Linked DNA regions of Homo sapiens. The protein of the gene in region 3 interacts with the protein of the main gene of each other region in a biochemical or structural test. Each region holds a gene or a part of one and is shown on either strand. Other genes may lie near its edges.

Evidence for each region. The genes of interacting proteins can lie anywhere in the genome.
Region 1: the proteins of PLG (region 3) and FN1 form a complex in vitro, tested with the Homo sapiens proteins (one study listed by BioGRID).
Region 2: the proteins of PLG (region 3) and SERPINE1 form a complex in vitro, tested with the Homo sapiens proteins (one study listed by BioGRID).

Annotation. Positions count from the first base shown.
Region 1 is NC_000002.12:215,405,046-215,412,086, reverse strand, and holds part of FN1 (fibronectin isoform 1 precursor), read left to right. Parts: intron 1-1,972; coding exon 1,973-2,153; intron 2,154-2,347; coding exon 2,348-2,524; intron 2,525-3,660; coding exon 3,661-3,789; intron 3,790-3,889; coding exon 3,890-3,979; intron 3,980-4,765; coding exon 4,766-4,960; intron 4,961-5,576; coding exon 5,577-5,849; intron 5,850-7,041. UniProt on the Homo sapiens protein: Fibronectins bind cell surfaces and various compounds including collagen, fibrin, heparin, DNA, and actin. Fibronectins are involved in cell adhesion, cell motility, opsonization, wound healing, and maintenance of cell shape.
Region 2 is NC_000007.14:101,137,086-101,139,770, reverse strand, and holds the end of SERPINE1 (plasminogen activator inhibitor 1 isoform 2 precursor), read right to left. Parts: intron 2,518-2,685; coding exon of another isoform or gene 2,420-2,517; exon of another isoform or gene 2,367-2,419; coding exon 2,329-2,366; 3' UTR 1,982-2,328; coding exon of another isoform or gene 1,674-1,981; 3' UTR 524-1,673; downstream 1-523. UniProt on the Homo sapiens protein: Serine protease inhibitor. Inhibits TMPRSS7. Is a primary inhibitor of tissue-type plasminogen activator (PLAT) and urokinase-type plasminogen activator (PLAU).
Region 3 is NC_000006.12:160,705,208-160,712,248, forward strand, and holds part of PLG (plasminogen isoform 1 precursor), read left to right. Parts: intron 1-1,199; coding exon 1,200-1,335; intron 1,336-2,492; coding exon 2,493-2,599; intron 2,600-5,869; coding exon 5,870-5,984; coding exon of another isoform or gene 5,985-5,988; exon of another isoform or gene 5,989-6,665; intron 6,666-7,041. UniProt on the Homo sapiens protein: Plasmin dissolves the fibrin of blood clots and acts as a proteolytic factor in a variety of other processes including embryonic development, tissue remodeling, tumor invasion, and inflammation. In ovulation, weakens the walls of the Graafian follicle.

The DNA of each region.
Region 1 (7,041 bases), on a different chromosome or scaffold from region 3:
TCTAGTCTCTCATCTTCTTATTACATCATTAATTTTATTTACTTTAAAATTAAGGATATCCAAAGTATTATGTGAGACCATTGCAATGGGAGACTTAAAAGTGGTATAAAATGTACTTTGGGCCAGGCGCAGTGGCTCACGCCTGTAATCCCAGCACTTTGGGAGGCCAAGGTGGGCGGATCACGAGGTCAAGAGATCGAGAGCATCCTGGCCAACATGGTGAAACCCCGTCTCTATTAAAAATACAAAAAAATTAGCTGGGCATGGTGGCGCATACCTGTAATCCCAGCTACTCGGGAAGCTGAGGCAGGAGAATCGCTTGAAACCAGAAGGCGGAGGTTGCAGTGAGCCAGGATCACGCCACTGCACTCCAGCCTGGGCAACAAGAGCGAAACTCCATCTCAAAAAAAAAAAAAAAAAAGTACATTGAATTGGAAAGTCTTCAAAAAGCAGCAGTGATGAATTTTTTGAGATTTTTAACAATTACAAAAATTCAGGGTTTTTTCTAATGGATGCCACCTGAGACTTTATTTTCTGTTATTTTCTTGTAATAACTAACCAAACAAGCTCATGTTGAAAAATGATTACTAAATTTGAGCTAATTGCAATGACTGGTTTCAAAATTTTCCACAGTGTATTTGAGTTAAAATTTCACTGTGAAGAGTACTACGATCACTCTCGCTTATTCCAAAAATATAAATGGACACTTGAGTATTTGAATTATTGAGGAAATGGTTGACTGGGTAATTTTTAAAAATCACTGGGCACAAAAAATATATTTTGACTTATATTAGTTTAGAGTATTTACACTTGAAAGAGTCTCATCTTTTCTGAAGGGTGTTTCTTTCATACACATTTTATTGCACTGAGTTTTGTGACCCATGGCATATTAATGAAGCTGAACAGGATGTGAAATATAAACTGGAAGCAAAAGATTAAATAAACCAAAATTGCATTTTTTCTGTAGTCTTGTCCAAAATTGGGTAACCACTTCTGATGGGGTAGCTCATATCCAAGAATGAGTCACAAAACCAGACTCGTTGAACCTGGTATATGATGAGTCACAAAGCAACATTCTGCCTTTGTTTTTTCAGGACAAGAAACTTGAATTGTATCCCACTGAGTTAAAAGATAAAATATATGGCATTGGCATTTCTGTACTTCAGAGAGGAATATATCTGTTTGTGGTAGGAATAAAAAATAAGTGAGAGAGGCAAAGCTTAGGTTCATCATATTATGTTACTGATATAACACAATTAACTTGGTAAAAGTGAAGGTGTGGGTGGGCGTGGTGGCTCACGCTTGTAATCCCAGCACTTTGGGAGTCCGAGGCGGGTGGATCACCTGAGGTCGGGAGTTCGAGACCAGCCTGACCAACATGGAGAAACCCCATCTCTACTAAAAATATAAAATTAGCCAGGCATGGTGGCACACGCCTCTAATCCCAGCTACTCGGGAGGCTGAGGCAGGAGAAGCGCTTAAACCTGGGAGGTGGAGTTTGCAGTGAGCTGAGATTGAGCCACTGCACTCTAGCCTGGGCAACAAGAGCAAAACTCTGTCTCAAAAAAAAAAAAAAAAAGTGAAGGTGCCCAGTGTCTGCAACTATGTCACCCCGGGCATATCACATATCACTCTGTTTTTCCGTCTGTAAAACGGGAGCAACAATGCCATTGCCTTATCATCAGAAGGATATGGAGACTAAATGGGAGAATGTAGGTAAACAGCACAGAGTATGGGTATCAGTAAGTAAACTGCAGCAGTTTGTTGATGTTAACAATAGTTAGCATTATATCTAACTATATCTAACGATATAACCATTGGGAATCCAGTTTTCCATGATTTTCCTCTAGAATGGAGCTGCCTAAGTCCTGCTTAAGTCATTTTTCTTTGAAGATTACTGAACATCATCTTCAAATGTTCATCCTTGTAAACACGTGTGTGTGTGTGTGTGTGTGTTAATTTAAATTTTCAGAAAAATTCTGTAGGCCGTTGGAAGGAAGCTACCATACCAGGCCACTTAAACTCCTACACCATCAAAGGCCTGAAGCCTGGTGTGGTATACGAGGGCCAGCTCATCAGCATCCAGCAGTACGGCCACCAAGAAGTGACTCGCTTTGACTTCACCACCACCAGCACCAGCACACCTGTGACCAGTATGTACACAACCACCCTCATGCCTCCTACCCCCGAGGTTCCTAGAGCTAGGCTCTCCTGAGGCAATGCTTTCCTTCTCAATTCATATTCTTCCAGGAGGGGCACCAACGTTTTTTAAAATGATGTTGGCGACGAGGACGGTAAATTTTCTAGATGACTGAAGGCTGACTTTCCCCTTTCTGTGACTCTCTAGGCAACACCGTGACAGGAGAGACGACTCCCTTTTCTCCTCTTGTGGCCACTTCTGAATCTGTGACCGAAATCACAGCCAGTAGCTTTGTGGTCTCCTGGGTCTCAGCTTCCGACACCGTGTCGGGATTCCGGGTGGAATATGAGCTGAGTGAGGAGGGAGATGAGCCACAGTACCTGGGTAAGCTCAATATGTCGCTCAAGACAGGTTCAGGGCAGCTGCTGGAAAACTCTCCTTGTGGGGGTGGGTGGCCTCTAGGCAGGTGGTATCTGTGGTTTGGAACTGGTTGACAGCTCAGACTGAACAAACCACCCTCTGGCATGAGGAAGGGAAGGACTGACTCTTTCTAAGAAGTGGCCGGGTTTTTCCCAAGCCACTGTCACATGTTCCTGGTCCCTGATGCCAGCTGCATCATGCGCCTACCTGTGCACAAGTTCCTACAGCAAAAGCTGTGTTCTTGGTGGAAGTAATTACCAGGACTGCAGCTGACAATGTGAGCACAGTACGGTCACTCATACTTTTCAAATTGTTATGGTGAGGGGCCTTTAAAAAACTTCATTGGCGCACTGAAGTGTGTGCCATCGTAAGCACTGAGTTCAGTGAATTTGAATTCTTATAAAGTGAACACACCACAAGACCAGCACCCAGATCAAGGAAAAGAATATCTCTCTACCCTCACCCCATCATCTTCCGCCAATAATCACTACCCTGACTCTTACTGCAGAGAGCTATTTTTAAAAATTTGGCATTCGATTACAAAAATTATACGTCTTTAGAAAAAAAGTTGGAAAAATGAAAGGAAGAAGGAGGAGGAGGAGAAAGGAGAAAGACAAGAAGTGGTGTTTTCCCATAGTACATTAATAATCACAGATTAGGTGGGTGCGGTGGCTAACTCCTATAATCTCAGCACTTCGGGAAGCTGAGGCTGGTGGATCACTTGAGGCCAGGAGTTCGAGATCAGCCTGGCCAACATGGTGAACCTCCATCTCTAATAAAAATGCAAAAAAAATAGCCGGGTGTGGTGGTGTGCACCTGTAATCCCAGCTACTCGGGAGGCCGAGGCAGAAGAATTGCTTGAACCGGAAAGGTAGAGGATGCAGTGAGCTGAAATTGTGCCACTGCACTCCAGCCTGGGCAACACAGCAAGACTCTGTGTAAAAATAATAATAATAATCACTGATTAGCTATTAGCACATTACCTTCTAGTCGCTTTTCCCTATGAATATATAATTCTTAAAATATCCTTCTTATAAGCTGTAGAGTCATTTGAGGGACTAGTTTGCTCTGATTAGTTACCTTTTCTTTTCATTTCAAAGATCTTCCAAGCACAGCCACTTCTGTGAACATCCCTGACCTGCTTCCTGGCCGAAAATACATTGTAAATGTCTATCAGATATCTGAGGATGGGGAGCAGAGTTTGATCCTGTCTACTTCACAAACAACAGGTACATGTGTGCTACATAGTGTTAAAAGAATCTTTTTCTGTAAAACACAGGCCTGTAGTAGCACTTCCTGACTGTTTGCCCCACTTTCTTTCTTTCTTAGCGCCTGATGCCCCTCCTGACACGACTGTGGACCAAGTTGATGACACCTCAATTGTTGTTCGCTGGAGCAGACCCCAGGCTCCCATCACAGGTCAGCTAAGCGTCCCCCTCTTTGGCTGCTATGTTAATCTTAATGACATCAGCAGGGAGGGCGCAGATTCTGACTGCGGACCTGCATATCACTTTAAATCTCCAATATAATTTATGGGAGAGGGGTTTGTGTGTGTGTGTGTGTGTGTGTGTGGCGGGGGTGGGGGAGTTATTTTCTATGGCACATTTCCCCTTGAAACCATTTCACCAACTCCCTTATACACACACACCACAACATACACACAACCTGTAAAGCCAGCTCATTGGCTTATTAAAGCAAGTGTTCCCAGGGTTGAAGAGGTGTAATTTCCTGAAAACGTTGCTCTAAGATTTATCCTTAAGGAGAAAGCTGAGCTGTCGTCTTAGCTCATTAGGTGATTCAACTGCCTCATCACTGAAGTTCCAAAAAGACACACACAGTGCTAGACAACTCTGCTTAGGCTGGTTCATTAATTGCTTCCCTCGTCTGGAGCTCAAAGAGGAAAAATCAGCTTAACATGAATATTTTCACCTAATGGCATCTCTAATTGACATTTATTAAGGATGTCAGGTCTTCAAGGATGACATTTATTATTAAAAAGGTTCGCATGACTGTTCTTATTTTATCTTCGTGCTGAATAGTCATTATTAGAAGAAGTGGCAATATTCAAAGAGTCAAAAAGTATCACTGGCTCTTCACTAATCAAGCAAGATGCTAAGGGATATTAGAAAAGGGAGGATTTATGGTGTTTCTAAGCCTCTGTCTCAAAGAAAACAGTGCATCTTACTTTTGCTCATGAATCTGCAGGGTACAGAATAGTCTATTCGCCATCAGTAGAAGGTAGCAGCACAGAACTCAACCTTCCTGAAACTGCAAACTCCGTCACCCTCAGTGACTTGCAACCTGGTGTTCAGTATAACATCACTATCTATGCTGTGGAAGAAAATCAAGAAAGTACACCTGTTGTCATTCAACAAGAAACCACTGGCACCCCACGCTCAGGTAACTTTTTTAAGAAGACACTTCCTATGTTATCTTATCAGGATTGTTCCTGAAGGAGGGTTGTTTTGTCTCTGTCAACAGTCCTCTCATTCAAGAAATCTTATATATTAGTTTTTCCCTAAACTTCTGATATTTAGCTGAAATGTCATAAGTAACTTATCAAAGCTGGCTACTGGCCTTTCTGATTAAAAACTGACACCATAACGTCCATCTACAAATTTTCCCCTAGAAGCTTAAGGGTCATTTCATTTTTGATTCTTAAGTATTATAAAATGATTCAGTAAAACAAAAACTGTTACATTATTTTCTGCAGTTATTTCAAAGGCTTTTTCTAAAAAATTTTTTAGTATCTTTTCTTATAACCCTCTCCCCCCACCACCATATGACACTTCATATGCTGGTAACTCACTTATTACCTATTTTAGATAAAAGGTTCAAATGTCATAATTTAAGCACTATGACTGGACCATGAAAATGTGATCTGATTAAGAGACAAAACTTAGCAAAACTCTCGAATGAGAGGCTCAATGAACTGCCTAACATATCCAAGAAACTGGCTTCTTAAAAGTAATCTTCAGCAGAGAATGTGAATGACCAGTTGACTCTTGTCTGTCAGATACAGTGCCCTCTCCCAGGGACCTGCAGTTTGTGGAAGTGACAGACGTGAAGGTCACCATCATGTGGACACCGCCTGAGAGTGCAGTGACCGGCTACCGTGTGGATGTGATCCCCGTCAACCTGCCTGGCGAGCACGGGCAGAGGCTGCCCATCAGCAGGAACACCTTTGCAGAAGTCACCGGGCTGTCCCCTGGGGTCACCTATTACTTCAAAGTCTTTGCAGTGAGCCATGGGAGGGAGAGCAAGCCTCTGACTGCTCAACAGACAACCAGTATGTCTTCTCCTATCTCTATCTCCCCTCCAAATTCTCCACCCTCACTTGCAGCCTGTGAGAAAGTGCAGTAAACCATTCACTCAGAGGTGTATGGCTTAGAGAGAGGGAAATACCCAGCCGGCAAGGGAATGCATAGTGAACACAAAGCACATTAAACTTGAAAACAAAACTCAGACAAGCTCCATGGATGCTAAGTGGTAACCCATTTCTAAAATACATGTACCAGCTGAAGGGTACTAAGAGGGGAGAACTGAAGAGAATCTAATTTGAGTGCATTTTTCGTGTAACTAAATATATCTAGATCAAAGTTAAAATGCAGGATCATAACACTTAGAGTAGAATTCATTTAACAATAGCAATTGTCAAGTGTCTAGTATTACTAGCCACCAGCTTATCTGCTCAGTTTTTACAAGCATTATTCTCATATTTACTCTTTGTTTTGACCTTAGGAAGGAAGGTCTTATTATTATTATTTTATTTATTTATTTTTTTGAGATGGAGTCTCGCTCTGTCGCCAGGGCTGGAGTACAGTGGCACCATCTCAGCTCACTGGAACCTCTACCACCTGGGTTCAAGCAATTCTCCTGCCTCAGCCTCCCGAGTAGCTGGGACTACAGGCGTGTGCCACCATGCCCTGCTAATTTTTGTGTTTTTAGTAGAAATGGGTTTCGCTGTGTTGGCCAAGCTGGTCTGAAACTCCTGACCTCAAGTGATCCACCCACTTTGGCCTCCCAAAGTGCTGGGATTACAGGCGTGAGCCATCGTGCCCAGCCGGAAGGTCTTACTAGTATCCGTATTGAATACTTAAAGAAACTGAGGCTTTAAAAAAGTTCTGCAACTTGTAGGGTCACAGAGATAGGAAGGGATAGAGCTGGCTCTATAACCTATGTCCGAAGCCCATGCTCTCAATTATTATACTCGACTGCCTCTTAAAGATTTCCTCTATTTGAAAGGTAATTTAAATTTCGGTGGGAAAACTGCTGGTTATTATTCTCAAGAATAAACTCCACAACTTATGTGATTCTGATAGTGCAAACTCACCAGTATCCTACCATGAATCTGAGGATACGTTATCATTACTGTAATTACTGTCTAATCTGAACCATGTGAAAATAACTTTTATTTCTCTAGCAAAGGGCTATTCACAGAATATTGCTTTTGACCCATAGAGAGCTTCTTCTTGCTGTCA
Region 2 (2,685 bases), on a different chromosome or scaffold from region 3:
GCAGAATCAACTTATCCTTGGGGCTTGTGGCAGAGCTGAGGTGACCATTTCATGGACTCCCCCATGTTGGGCCAACCTGGATGTAGGAAGGTCTCTTCCACCCATGAGGTCTATGGACCAACAGGATTTTGATTCTGGGTTTGTTGTTGTCTTTGTAGTTGTTGTTTTTTGAGAGGGAGTCTCGCTCTGCCACCCAGCCTGGAGTTCAGTGATGCAATCTCAGCTCACTGCAACCTCTGCCTCCTGGCTTCAAGTGATTCTCCTGCCTCAGCCTCCCGAGTAGCTGGGATTACAGGCGCCAGCCACCACGCCCGGCTAATTTTTGTATTTTTAGTAGAGACGGGGTTTCACCATGTTGTCCAGGCTGGTCTCAAACTCCTGACCTTAGGTGATCCACCCACCTCGGCTTCCCAAAGTGCTGGGATTACAGGCATGAACCACCACACCTGGCCTAGGCTTCTGATTTCTTGTACCACCGGTGTGAAATGGAGAAGGTGAAGGCAGTGACTGTCCTGACATATTCTTCGTATTTATTTATTTTATTATTTTTTTGAAACATTTTTACATGTTTATTTATCAAAAGTGAAAAAGCATACAATTCAACACAATTTCAATAGCATTTGACACCACCCCTGTGGATCCTGTACATGGCTGACGTCACCGTCCAGTGCAAAATCAAAAAAGAAAGAAAGAAAAACCCCAAAGAAAGAGGATTTTTCAGTGGAGAACATGGTGGGCTGATTAGGCTTCTATTAGATTACATTCATTTCACATCTGTGTGCAATTCTCCCATAAATTGGTCTTTAAAATATATATATATATTTAAAGATATTAGAAATATATATTTAAGTATATTTAAAATATATATATTTTTAAAGAGACGGGGGTCTTGGTATGTTGCCCAGGCTGGTCTTGAACTCCTGGGCTCAAGCAATCCTCCCGCCTTGGCCTCCCAAAGTGCATTACATCCATCTTTGTGCCCTACCCTCTGGCTGGTAGGTTTTCAGAAATATTATCTAAGGTAGTTGAATCCGAGCTGCCTGTCTCTCTCACCCACCCCCCCCTCACGTGTCCACTGCTCACACACAGCAGCCGGAAATGACACATTGAAGTGAGTCACCAATGCGGCTGTGAGTCACCCTGTAATTGGGGAAAGTTCTGTCCTGGTAGGTCATGCAGCCCCTTGCATTTCTGCTCCTAAATCTATTGAACACATTGGAAACCACTCTGTCCTCATCTGAGTCTCTGTCCCCCCACTCCGTCCTTTTGATCCCCTGAAGGAGGATGAAATTGTATGGTCAATTTCCATCAAGGGGAAAAAGAGGGGCGCGGGGGGCGCGAGGGTCTCAGGCGGCCACAAGGTGGCAGTGTGGGCTCCGTCACGCTGGATGTCCGGAGGGGTGTGTGCCAGTCAAGTGGCTGGACTTCCTGAGATACGGTGACACAGACCACAAAGAAACACTAGGAGCGAGTTTAAATAATATTATTTTCCTTAGTAGTTCTCTTTCTCTCTAACAAGCACTCAAGGGCAAGGATATGATAAATATTTAGGTACACCCCTCCCCACCAAGAGATTGGGGGGTGAAGAGCTGGGCACGCATCTGACATTTCTTCCTCTATTCCTATAAAAATAAAAGGAAGCAGAAATCTGCTTCAATGAGTAAACAAGTCACCTACACTCCAAAATAACCCATGCACACTGTTTCTGGGGAGGGAGATGGCCAGGCCAGGAGAGTTGGGCCACATGATGGGGGACATTCACTCTGCCACCTGCAGCACCCCTGTACTGGGGAGGGGTGGCCAGTGCCACAGTGGACTCTGAGATGAAAGGGTGTTTCTTCCACTGGCCTTTGGCCTGTCACCAGCCTCCTCCGCGGTGGCAGGCAGTACAAGAGTGATGGCAATGTGACTGGAACAGAAATAGTTTCTACCAGGCACACAAAAGCTCCTGTAAGCCCCGTAGTTCCATCCTGCAAAGGGCCTCAGTGGGAACCAGGTCTGCAGACCCGAGTGGGCAGAGAGACGGGTGGAAGCAGGTGCCCCAGATGGTCCCGCAGGCGTCACCGTCTGGTTTGGAGACCTTAAGGGAGTTGTGCTTCAAACTTCTCTCCCAGGGTCTCAGGTGGAGACTAGGGAGTTTGACCTAAAGGTCCTCCAAGGAGAGGCCAAGGTCTTGGAGACAGATCTGGTTTACCATCTTTTAACAAAAGGCAAATGTCTTCTCTTCCTTCAGAAAGAGTCATTAACACTAAAATTCTTTTCTTCGGAGTTTCTTCTTTCCCGATGCATCTCCAGTTTTGTCCCAGATGAAGGCGTCTTTCCCCAGGGTCAGGGTTCCATCACTTGGCCCATGAAAAGGACTGTTCCTGAGGGTGGAAGAACCATGGGGGTTGAGAAGCAGAAGGAGTGGGACAGCTCATCAGGCTGGATGTGGGTGGAAGGACTGAGATCTAGGCAGATGAGTGAGCTGTCTGGAGTCGCAGCTGCCTGAGTCACAGAGCGGGGACCCGGCACTGTCTGTGGGTGATAGAAGGTAGCCTCCTCTTGGGACAGGAAGCAGGGTAGGGTTATGGGTTCCCTGCCCAGAGCCCTCTCAGGGATAGAGGGATGTCTGCATCTGTCGGGACTAGTTCCTGAGAGAAAGAATGGGTGGGAGGATGTGGAACGTGATGGGTTCCAGGCTCA
Region 3 (7,041 bases):
AAGGACGGAGCTGGCATCTCCAGGCTTGGAATAGAGCTACCAAAGCTCAGCCAGATGTCTGGAAGAGCCTCAGGACAAGGGGACACCCTGTAGCCTTGTGGTGGGAGCACAGCTGAGGCCCCCTTGGCCACCCTCTGCCACGACCAGGCAGAAAGCAGCTTTCGGACAGATTCGTTGTCTCAGATTTGATCTCAAAGAAAAACCAAGACCAGTATTTGTCCCAGGTCCTGCTTTTTTACAATTTCCTCCGAAATCCAGATACCTGTCAACACCTTGGAAAAACTGACTTCTCCCCAATTAGTAGTGTTGTGTGACTGTCATAAGCCCAGTACAAAAATGGCCTTCTTTGTTGGGGAGCTTCTTACCCTCCAGTGTTTTGCCCAATTTTTGTCCAAGGTGGCAACATAATTTAGTTCAGTTCTTGTTTATTTCCACCATCATCTATGCACCAAAATTTATGTTTCTCAAGGAGGGACCATTCAGAGGATGCTTCCCACCGGTTCAAGTGACAGTGCCAGAACCAAAGCGCATATTGTAGGAAATCAAACAATGGCCTCCAAGTTCCATTTCTACCCAGGGATGAACAAATCAACATCAATCTTGGTAACACAACTGCCACTGATGGTGCCTTACTCTTCTCTCATGACATGGCACAATCAATAGCAAACATAAAATTTGTTCTTGTTTAAGGATTTATATCCACTAATATGGTAACATAGTAGTGGTTCCATAGTTCTAACCTGTTTGTCAATCCAGTTAATCTTTTACTATCTTGCAATCTGCTAATGAAACTGTTTTTCTTTGTTTTATAATTTCAACTTTTAGAGTCAGGGGTACATGTGCAGGTGTGTTACATAACTAAATTGCGTGACACTGAGCTTTGGGGTACAAATGATCCCATCACCCAGGTAGTGAGCTAAATACCTACTAAATAGGTAGTTTTTCAGCCCTTGCCTTGCTCCCTCTCTCCCTTCTCTGGTAGTCCCCAGTGTCTTTAGTTGCCATCTTTATTTATGTCCAAATGCCCGACTGTGTGTTCTTAACTAAACATTTTGATTCATAGCTACCCATTCTACTTCCAGTAAACAGAAAGTTTTATTTGGTTAATGCTAACCAAATAGATTAAAAGGAAGTCATGACAATTAGACATTGACATTGATTTACTGACCATTTATTCCACTTGGATCTCCCACCTCTAGGTCAAGGAGAGCCTCTGGATGACTATGTGAATACCCAGGGGGCTTCACTGTTCAGTGTCACTAAGAAGCAGCTGGGAGCAGGAAGTATAGAAGAATGTGCAGCAAAATGTGAGGAGGACGAAGAATTCACCTGCAGGTATTTCCATTGTCGTTGCACCTACGCAGGAATCTGTAATTCAGATGGCAAGTAATTTACTCACAAATTTATTAATGATTTAAGAGGAAAGAGAAATTTATGGAGCCAGAGTTTGGAACTATATTTGCTCACAGTATGTGAAGCCATACTAACAGCTTCTTGTTAAGGTTTATTGGAGTCTTTGTTAGAAAAATACCCTCAAAGGAAGTTATTTGTTTTTACACCGGACACAAACATTAGCAGTTATTGTTCTGAGCTCCAGTTTTCAACATCATCATCAGTAAATGTTTGTTGAGGATCAGGTGAATGAAAGTGTCCTAGATAGATCTGAGCAATGACTTATAGCTACAAGATCCAGTGCCTGCCCTTTAGTATTTAAGGTGTAGTCAAAGAAACTGGATATAATGTTAAAAAAAAAAAAAAGACAGCCCAAGTGAGGTACAGGCATAATCAATGCATGCTCTACCCAGATCCAGAAGAAAGAACAGTGCCTAAGGTTGAGGCAGCTAGAGAAGGCTCAGGGAGGAGGTGGGAACTGAGCTGGGTTTGGAGTTGAGAGAGCTCTTGACAAGCACCAGGAAGGCAGGGGAAGATGCGGCCCTGCACCTTCTGAGGGGGACCATTAAGAGATGAAGTTGACTAAAGCAGAGACTTTGTGTAGGTGACGGGCTTGGGAAGGTAGCTATGGAATCCAGACTGAGCACCCATAGCAGGACCACGGGATGGAGATGGGAGGGGTCAGGGGCCAGGGTGGGGTGGAATGTGGAGCAGAGGTTCAGGGGAACTGATCAGAGTTGGGAGGTCATGGAGACGGACTATCTTGGCGAATGGGTTCAAAGCAACCAGAGTTGCTTCTTTCCAACCCAAAAACAAAAATTAAGAAGATGAGTGAAGAAGAAGTAAAGCAGTTGAAACAGGAAGAAAGGGAAAATTATGAGGGAGGGAAGGTAAGGGCAGATAAGATTTGCTGCCACGTTGGTGTATTTTGTTCAGTACTTCATCGATGCCATGCCCAAATAACTGAAAGAGGCAGCAATTCTGAGCTCTCTGGTCCCTCAAGATATTCAATGATCTTTAGCATGTCTCACTTATTAATAAACATTTGTTTTCTTTAAATAAAGAAAAATACTTATTGGATTTCCTGCTTCGTTCTGCAGGGCATTCCAATATCACAGTAAAGAGCAACAATGTGTGATAATGGCTGAAAACAGGAAGTCCTCCATAATCATTAGGATGAGAGATGTAGTTTTATTTGAAAAGAAAGGTGAGTACATTTTCTTCCTCCTCCTCCTACTGTCCTCCCCATCCTCCCACTCTTCCTCTTTCTCTATTCTATCTTTAATTTATAAGACCAGAGGAGGAAGGCACTATCGTGTTATAAAACTGAATTCTGAGTTAGGACAGGATTTGATTACTAACTAACCATGTCAGCTTGAGTGTATTACTTCACCTCTTAGATTTAATTTTTTTTGTTCAAAAGATGAAAGGATTAGATTTACAAAATCACTTCTACCTCTATGACCCTGAAAATAAGATTTTTAAAATATTATTTTATATTTAACAAGGAGATGGGAAGTCTAAGCATTCCTTTTGGTCTTGGCTTCTTATTCTGCAGGGTGACCATGGTCCTTGGGCCCTAACATCTGGATGAAGCCTTGTAAAACAGAAATACTGAGGTGTTTTAATCCTCAGAAACATTTAGATTGGGACACAAATCTTATTTTTACTCTTAAATTTTTCACATTTTGGGGGACATGGTCTATATTTTTCTCAGATTTCTGAAATGTTGTCTTTTAAAAATGTGTAAAAGTTACAGTTCCTTTTCTATAGTTTATTTTAAAATGTGGGTCAATAGTCCCACTGCTTAGAATAAGAGGCAGACAGGATTTCAATAGAAATTGCATGCCTTTTTAGATGTGCAAATGTTTCATTAAGCATTTCCCATCAAGTATATCCCATCAAGTATGCTCCCATTAAGCATATCCCATCAAGTATAAATATTTGAAGGGATGCATGACACTTTAAAAACTGTTTCCTCTACTGTGTTGGTAGCCAGGTATTAAGACTGTTAATAGTAACAATTTAGCTCTCCAAACATTCTGCATCCCAGGTGTTAAAGAGGACTGGAAACACCTTAGTTCTTGTATTCTTGAGGATGATTTGCCATATTGTGTCTAGTATTACGGCAAAACTCTAAGTAGCATTTTAAATAGTATTTATTTGGGTTGGAATTATTTCTATGCATTGACTCATCTTCCTGGGTTTCATTAGCTGTACGCATTGTACTTCCTTCCTTACCACTATTTATCTCGAATTCTTGAGATTAAAGTGCAGATTAAATCTAAACTTTATCTGGTGAAGTTATTAGTTCTTACAAGTAGCAAGCAAACGGTAAACTAAATAGGATCACCTAATTGTACCAGATTTTAAAAAAAAAAAACCCTGATTCTCCTGATTCTCTCTACAAAATGCTAACATTTAAATATGTCATTTGTAAATTGTTAACCAGAAGGAACATGGGAATGACTGTAGGTTGAGTTTGAAGTCTGAAGTTTGAAGGCTTAGTTTGCTTGTTTTCAAAGTGACAGAAGGGAGCAAAAGGTTATATAAACTCTGATGGGTACATACAAAAAAAAAAGAAGTGAAAAGTCAAAAGTCAGTCATTTTTTGGTCCTTGTTTCTTTGCTGTGGGATATTGACCTGCTACTAACTTACCTGCCAGGGTTTTGCCAGGAACAGTCAGTGTTAGATCACATTTACTTCTGCCACTTGCCACCAGCCACACTGCCTTCACCAAGTCCAAGACCCTATCACCACTGGTTGGGGCTACTTGTAGCTGTACACATGATCTCTAAGAAATGTAACTTCCCTGTTTAAAGCCCTTCCTAGTGCCCTTAAAATAAGACCCAAAGACTTCCCAAATGTGCTAGGGCCCAGCATTATTTAAGTAACCCCCAGCTGCTGTTTGCTTGGCTTGCTAAACTTTTCTACACTGGCCTTACTTCTGTTCCTTCACCACCCCAAGCACACACCCTCCTGCCTGGGACCCTCTTCACCTTTGTCCTGCTGTGCCAGCTCCTTCTTATCTCCTAGGTGTCAGCTCAATCATCATGTCCTTTGCAAATCTTCCTTGACCCCTAGACCTCCCTTTCACAAAGTACCTTGAGTTTACACTTTTGATGAGTGTCTTATGTCTACTGTAATACTATGTCCCAATGAAGATGTACTTGCAATCATAATACGCAGTATTGGGTTAAAAGCATTAGTTTGCTGTAGGTATGTTAGGAGCACTTTCCCCATGTGATTGATCAATTAATTAAAAAATGGCTAAAGTGGGTAACCTTAAATGATGGTGTAAATATACCTTAAACATTTTATATTTTCATTGAAAACACAAGTGTACTTGACACCTTTTGACGTAGAGCAGAGGCTTTTCTTCTTCGAATATGGGGTCACCAGTAGAAGGTCTCTGGTGTATTTCCTGCATAAACTATGCTCCAGTGCAACATCTACAATAATTACTTTCCTTATTTTTGAAGTGGACCATATCTCGACATTTATTAATCAATCTGAATGTGTAAAACCTTTAGATTTTTATGAATTCCTCCTCAAGCTTTATAGTCAACTATATGAGTGGATTGCCCTCTGTGGATTTGATAGCAATTTTTTAAATGATTCATGTTTCAACTTGTTAAAAACATTTAATTTAGTTAAAAACCAAACAAAAAAGAGCTTTGTTTCTTTTCACATTCATTTCTCAGTTTAGATCATCTTTAATTAAATATAAATGTAAGAAAGTTGGAAAATGCAAAGAAATGACTCGTTGTAAGCACATAACTCACGTGGGGGGAACAGACATGGGTGGGCACACTAGCAAACACCTGCCAGCTGCATGTGGACCCAGGTGGGCACCGGACTGTTTTAAACACAGGAGAGGGCCCGTTGTCTAACTGGTGAGTTGGTTGAGTGGAAGCTGGTTGAGAACTTTTACTGCAAACCATTTACAGTAGACCACAATTTTATAGCCCTGTTTGGCACTTTTTCATATCACTGGGAGCCTGAAGAAATAGAAGTGGGTTGGATCTCTTTCAGCCTCTGAAAAGCCTGCCATTCCCCCATCTAAAAAGCCCTTTCCCCATTCTCTCACTCTGTCTCATCATGTATGTAATATGTATCATCATTAAGTGATCTCATTTTATATTGTTTCCTTGAATATTTCCTGTAACCCCCCTGCCTGATTCCACTAGAATGTAAGCTCCATGACGGCCAAGCCTCTGGCTGCACTGTGCCCCGTGTGTCCCCAGCATCCTGGTGGGGCTCGATACACAGAGAGCTCATAAGTAGCATTTGAATACATGAATCAAAGAATGGCTCAGTTTACTGCAGCCTTTTTGCAGATGCAAAAGATGATCTTTTAGAAAGCAGAAACAGGGGGTCTGGTGCATGAGATCTTTTTCTCAACGTGACTATGCTGTGCAGACCTTCATGTGGTGTCTTGTGAAAGACTTTGACCACTGTGTGGACTTCCCTTCAGTGTATCTCTCAGAGTGCAAGACTGGGAATGGAAAGAACTACAGAGGGACGATGTCCAAAACAAAAAATGGCATCACCTGTCAAAAATGGAGTTCCACTTCTCCCCACAGACCTAGGTAAGACATTCCCTTTCATCTTTGTGTTCATCTACTGTAAAGTTGTCCCTCTGTGTCTGTGAGGGATTGGTTCCAGGACCCCTGTGGCTACCAAAATCCATGCTTCTCAAGTCCCTTATATAAAATGGTGCAGTATTTGCATATAACCTACATACCTTCTCTTGTATAATCCCTAATATAATGTAAATGCTATTTAATCGTTGTTATACTGTATTGTTTTTATTTGTATTATGTTTTATTGTCATATTGTTATTTTCTGTCATCTTTTTCAAGTCTTTTCCATCCACAGTTGGTTGAATTTGTGGATCTGGAACCCATGGATACAGAGGGCCAACTGTATTTAGGATAATTTCATCACTTTTAATTCAAACCACAATATGTGAATAAGCAGATAGAAAGAATCTTTTTGATGTCGATGTTCAACTATTTTTGGCACCATAGTAGAACATGGTTGCTTTCTATTTTTTCTTGGATATGGAGGTTTCTTGAAGACCTAGAACATAGAAGAATGCCTAGTTTAAAAAAAATCAATGAAACTATGAGTTTTAGGCCAAATCTGAGAAAAGATCAAAGATGACTATGTTTGGGACTGAAGTAAGCATATCAGGTTAGAACTCTCATCACATGTTCGACTCAAATTGTGGAGCAAAAGAGTAAATAAGATATAAAAATGAAAATGAAGATACGTGAAATTCAAATGTTGCAACTTGCCTATTATTTATTTTAGTGCATTTTTTTGTACTTTTCCCAGTTTGGTGTTAGGTGGCATTAAGTTCTCAGTAATGACGCTTATCAAATAGGAACTTAGTGCTTGTTACTCACCTTTATCCATTCCCCCAACACTCAACAAATTGCCTTTGCTATATCCCTATGAGATGAGCAGATCAAATATTCCCCGTGAGTTAATGAAAACTGATTCAACCAAATGGCAAAGTCAGAGACTATCGGGGGCCATGGAGACACTCTGGGCCATTTTTATGAGGTAGTCTAGGCTCATCTTTATGAGGGAACTGAGGTCTCGGGGGGTGGGGGTTATCCCAAATAGGTTCACAGAAGA